2 separate regions of the Homo sapiens genome follow, and region 1 is linked to region 2. Evidence: fine-mapped expression QTL. A gene starts in region 2. The other region holds a variant in brackets. All regions are shown on one strand. Distances are between the middles of the regions. Region 1 overlaps DDX46 (DEAD-box helicase 46). Region 2 holds the start of UBE2B (ubiquitin conjugating enzyme E2 B).

The links. PIP is the estimated chance that this variant, and not a neighbour inherited with it, causes the effect.
Region 1: its variant is the best candidate, but not a certain one, in a credible set for the expression of UBE2B in whole blood (TOPMed, PIP 0.89).

What each region holds. Positions count from the first base shown.
Region 1 is chr5:134,768,168-134,771,077 of GRCh38, reverse strand. DDX46 (DEAD-box helicase 46) reads right to left here. Exons shown (of 23, transcript NM_001300860.2): 4 at 79-175. Among named protein-coding and RNA genes, the nearest start is that of DDX46, 11 kb to the right of the region's middle. The variant G/A (reference allele first, on the strand shown) is at 1,633.
Region 2 is chr5:134,369,768-134,372,677 of GRCh38, reverse strand. It overlaps UBE2B (ubiquitin conjugating enzyme E2 B), which reads right to left and starts at 1,109. Exons shown (of 6, transcript NM_003337.4): 1 at 1,039-1,109. The coding sequence starts at 1,082. It also overlaps a transcript of CDKL3 not described here. RefSeq lists enhancers at 777-876, 1,817-1,886, 1,395-1,990 and a silencer at 1,297-1,346.

The sequences.
Region 1 (2,910 bases), 400 kb before region 2:
GAAAGAGGGAAAGAAAGAAAAGAAAGAAAGAAAGACAAAAAGAAAGAAAGAAAATTATTTTTAAGTTAATAAACATACGCCAGCATCTTTTTCTTTTTCATCCTCCTTGTCATCTTTGTCTTTTTTCTTCTCTTTAGAACTTTCCCCACCATCAGTTTTCTCTTTGGACCTAGATCTACCAAAAAAATAAAAGAGACAAGAGAAATGTCATTCATTTGTACTTAGAAACATTCATTTTTAAATACTTTTTTTTTTTTTTTTGAGACAGTGTCTCACTCTGTCGCCCAGACTGGAGTGGAGTGAAATGGTGCGATCTCAGCTCACTGCAACCTCCACCTCCCGGGTTCAAGCGATTCTCCTGTCACAGACTCCCGAATAGCTGAGATTACAGGTGCCAGCCACCACACTCATATAATTTTTGTATTTTTAGTAGAGACAGGTTTTCACCATGTTGGCCAGGCTGGTCCTGAACTTCTAACCTCAGGTGATCTGCCCACCTCAGCCTCTCAATGTGCTGGGATTATAGGCATGAGCCACCTCGCCCGGCCTTAAAATACTTTTACAGGTGGGGTAAGGTGCCTCACACTTATATACCCAGCACTTTGGGAAGCCAAGGCAGGAGGATCAATTGAAAACAGGAGTTAAAGAGATCAGCCAGGGGAACATAACAAGATCCAATCTTTCCAAAATATACTAAGAATTAGCTGGGTATGGTGGTGTGCACCTGCAGTCCTACCTACTGAGGAGGCAGAAACAAGACGATCACTTGAGCCCAGTAGTTCGAGGCTGCAGTCAGCTATGATCCCATCACTGCACTCAAGCTTGGGTGACAAAGTGAGACCCTGTCTCTTTTTAAAAAAAAAAAAAAAAAAAAAAAATTTGGTCAGGCATAGTGGCTCATGCCTGTAAGCTCAGTATTTTGGGAGGCCAAGGCAGGAAGATCACTTGAGCCCAGGAGTTCGAGACCAGCCAGGATAATACAGTGAGACCTCGTCTCTATTAAATTAAAACAAAAAATACATAAGTACACTTATTAGACTTGTATTCCAATATTTAGGTAAGAAATAAACTTCTAAGAGTCAACTGTGTTTTCATATTCCATTAACAAACACCTGGAGGCTGGGCATGGTGGCTCATGCCTCTAATCTCAGCACTTTGAGAGGCCAAGGCAGGCAGATCACGAGGTCAGGAGATCGAGACCATCCTGGCCAATATGGTGAAACCCCAACTCGGCCGGGCGCGGTGGCTCACGCCTGTAATCCCAGCACTCTGTGAGGCCGAGGCAGGTGGATCACATGAGGTTAGGAGTTCTAGACCAGCCTGACCAACATGGTGAAACCCTGTCTCTACTAAAAGTACAAAAATTAGCCGGGCTTGGTGGCAGGCGCCTGTAATCCCAGCTACTCAGGGGTGGGAGGCCGAGGCAGGAGAATCACTTGAACTCGGGAGGCGGAGGTTGCAGTGAGCCGAGATTGCACCATTGCCCACCAGCCTGGGAGACAAGAGCAAAACTTCACCTCAAAAAAAAAAAAAAAACAAACAAAAAAAACAAACCCCGTCTCTACTAAAAAATACAAAAATCAGCTGGGTATGGTGGCACGTGCCTGTAATCTCAGCTATTCAGGAGGCTGA[G/A]GCAGGAGAATAGCCTGAACCAGGGAGTCAGAGGTTGCAATGAGCTGATATTGCACAACTACATTCCAGCCTGACGACAGAGCAAGATTCTGCCTCAAAAAAAAAAAAAAAAAAAAAACCTTGAAAATATAACGAAAAAAATTAATCCCATGACACTAATGGGAAGCATTACTAAATATTTGGAAATTCAACCCAAGAAAAACTGAACATACTACATACAAACAATATAGTTTGTTTATAGGTAGGATAGTTAAAATGTGATAAATGAAGAAACAGACCAATATATTAATATTCTGCAAGATAATTTATATATGTAATAACGTTTAAAATCCCAAGGGACATGCATTTCGAATGTTCTAATGTTCTAATGATTTTAGGGGATTTTTTTGAGACGGAGTCTCTCTCTGTCGGCCAGGCTGGAGTGCAGTGGCGCAATCTCGGCTCACTGCAACCTCCACCTCCCGGCTTCAAGTGATTCTCCTGCCTCAGCCTCCCGAGTAGCTGGGATCACAGGTGTGTGCCACCACACCTGACTAATTTTTTACTTTTAGTAAAGACGAGGTTTCACCATGTTGGTCAGACTGGTCTCAAACTCCTGACCTCGTGATCCATCCACCTCGGCCTCCCAAAGTGCTAGGATTACAGGCGTGAGCCACTTCACCCAGACTTCTAATGATTTTTTAATGTTAAAATAACCTGCCATTCTTGGAATAAACCCAACTTGTTTACGCACCCCAACTTACGGCATCTCATAATGAATAAAATTTCTTAATTTTAATGTAATCAAATTAGTCAACCTTTTTTCTCCTTTATAATTGGTGCTTTTTAAAGTAGTTTAGAAATCCTTCCAGATTTGATGTAAGATACCTAGAGGTGAAGAAGAAGATACTCTCTGGCACAAACTTCTAAAAGGTTTAGAATTTTGCCATCTAATTTGGTCTTTGCTTGGAATTGCTTTTTGTACACAGAATAAGGTAGGCAGTCTTATTTCATAAAAGGATACTAGATATCCCTAGAGCAATTTAAAAATTTTTCTGGCCAGGCACGGTGGCTCACGCCTTTAATCCCAGCACTTTGGGAGGCCGAGGCGGGTGGATCACGAGATCAGGAGATCGAGACCATTCTGGCTAACACGGTGAAACCCCATCTCTACTAAAAAATACAAAAAATTAGCTGGGCATGTTGGCACACACCTGCAGTCCCAGCTACTCGGGAGGCTGAGGCAAGAGAATTACTTGAACCCGGGAGGCGAAGGTTGCAGTGAGCCGAGATTGCACC
Region 2 (2,910 bases):
AAGCTACGAATGAATTAAATAAGTTGGCCAAATCCAAGTGCCTCACATAGGCTTTATAATAGCTGAGAGGTGACTTCCTGAGCGACAAATCTAAGTTTTTATGCTAGATATTTTGTTCAATTAGGGCAGGTGTCCCCAGAAAAAATGTTAAGAAAAATGTGCAGAGTATCAAAATGATGTTTTCTCACTTATTTTTTCTATGTCTCTAAGTATCCAATAAAAGGTAAACAACGGAATAATCATTTTCTATCTCACAACCCCAATACCTCCTAACAAAACCCTATTTTATTTACCAAAGGAGGCCCAGGGAGTATCAGATTAGCGCCAGTCTAAGGGAAGGCATTTTTCCAGACTCGGGAGGCTATAGATAGGGGCTTTCTTCACCAGCCAGAGCTGAGTTCCAGAAAGCACTGGCAGCCGGGGTGGCCAGCTCTAAGGTCCCAGATCTCTAAGTCAGTTCCCAAGGTCCTTTCAGGCGGGCGGGGACAGAGTCGGGTTTCGGGGGATGGGTTAACCTCCGGGCCTCACGCACTGGACCCCACCCTCAGGGCACAAATGGAAAGGATTGGCAGGAGTCGGGAGAGGGGTTCGCCCCAACACGGCTCCTCGGAGAAGACGGCGGGGCCGTGAAACAAAGCTGACTGGTGCTGCCGGAGAGGAACAAGCTCCCGCAGGAGCTCACTTTGAGGGGACAAGAAGGGGGCGCCGCAGGGTGCAGGGGCGGGCGGATAATGTCTGATCGCCTGGGCGAGACGCCGGGCAGCTGGCCGAAATGGGCAGCAGGGAACCCTAGACCAGTCGATCGACACCGTTTTACTTTTTGTGGGGAGGGGAAGCAGTATCAAAATTTCTTCGGGCGCCAGAACGAGCGGCAAAGCTTATGGGAGTAGGGCCGAGGCTAGGACCCGGCTTCCGCCAGTCCCGCTGGGCCCACAGCCGGCCCTCTGAGGGTCACAAAGGGGAAGGTGTCTGGGATCCACGCCCTGCAGCCCCGCAGCTTTGAGGGGCCGTCATCTAGGCGAAGGTGAAGGCCCTTACCGCTTGAAATCCCGCATGAGCCTCCTCCGGGCCGGGGTCGACATGCTCCGCAGCTGCCCCGCGGTCAGTCTGAAAAAAAAAAAGTCCCGCGCAGCCCCCCCACCCCCCGGCGCGGCGGCCGAATCACTGTGGATCGCCGCCGCCGCCGCCGCCGCCGCCGCCGCCGAGACTGACAAACAACCCTGCAATGACGTCTCCCTCCGCCGCCTCCGGATCCCTCCGCCCTCCGCCGCTACCACAGTGTGAGTGCTGGGGGAGGAGGGGGCGGGACGCGGGAGCGCGCCTTCCCCGAGCCCTTCAGCGGGGCGCGGTTCCCCCTGGGCTTCCTGAAGTAATAGACAAATTTGTGTTCTCTGTGTTCAGACTAGAGGTTGTGGATTCAAAGACCACGAAACAGAAACACTATCCCGTCTCCCTCCCCGTCACTAGTTTAGGCTCGGCGGGGTGGAGAAAGAGGGACGCATCCGGGCCAGAGATTTCAGGGAAAGGAGGTGGGATGATGTAAGATCACGTGACTGCCCGCGGCCTTGTCAACAATCCACCCCTGAGTGGGAGGGGGAGAAGTATCTAGAACCACGTGTCCCTATGACGCGTTTAGAACGGGTCACGTGAGCGCCTCGCCTGGATGTGAGTTTCAGCCAGGTCTGTGAAGCGGGTTTAAGAGGGTGAGGGCGGGATAAACCTTTATTAGTTGTTTTCTGTTTATCACAGGTATAGAGACAACATTACCCAAGAGGTCATGGCAGAATCAACAGCTTGTTTTGTTTTCTTTAAACCGGGACCAAAAATAATTCCCCTCTGGTTGGTTCAGTGGCTTATTAACTCTGGTACTTGGGGCAAGAAGAGTGAGAGGATCGCACGATCTTCTAAGGCAGCCTTGAATACTGAGGCCCACACAACAATCTCCTGAAATGGTTCCTTGAAGCTACCAGATAGTCTTTCTGCTTTGCAGTGGGGTTTCTAGTATTGGAAATTCTGGGCAAATATTAAAGGATGGTGTATTATGCAGTTTTTCCTTTCTGGGTCTGCTTTCAATTGAAGATATGTGTCAGAGTCCGGGGACTTGCCTATGGTGGGGGAGTACCATTGTATTTTTAAGGAATGTGGGGGTGCAGTCTTCCAAGCATATCAATGAGTGGTTGGTTGTCAAAGAAACCTACAAATATGATTCATATTCTGGGGGAGAGCTCCGGCAGACATGAGTGAGGGTTATATATCTAGCCTGAGATAACTTCAGGTTTTCTACACTAGCAAGAAAGGTGCAAATGGGCCAGAAGGGCCCCCCACCACCAGGGGGTTCAGAGGTGTTGACCTCCCAAAGACCTTGAATATTTTCTGTGGTCACCGTCCTTCCCTCTATTGCTTCCAATTCCTACCTTCAGGACTTTGTTATACTAAGGACTCTGAGTACTTTTGTATCCATTTGGGGAACTGTTCAGTTCAACAGGTAAAGGGAGGGTGGAATGAGGACCTTAACATTGCCTCAGCCTTGCCCCTGATTCCATGGAAGCAGAGTTAACTTTTCTGACTTTCCTTGTACCTCTTTCTTCAAACCCTGAATTCCCTCTCTGCTTCCAGTGACTGCCTTGGTGATCAGGTTAGCCAGGCCTAACTCTTGATAGGTCCTGTTAGACATTCGCAATGTGTTTTTTAAGTTAAAAGCTGAATATTCTTAATTTTTTTGCCTTTCTGCCATTGCAGTCCTAACCCTTCCAATAGCAAAGGAGGAAGACACACAGGTAGGGTTACATGGAGAAAAATGGTAAAGAGAAACTATATCTTAAAAATATCCCTCATGAGCTGGGGCATTAGCTCATGCCTGTAATCCTAATACTTTGGGAGGCCAGGAGTTGAAGACCAGCCTGGGCAACA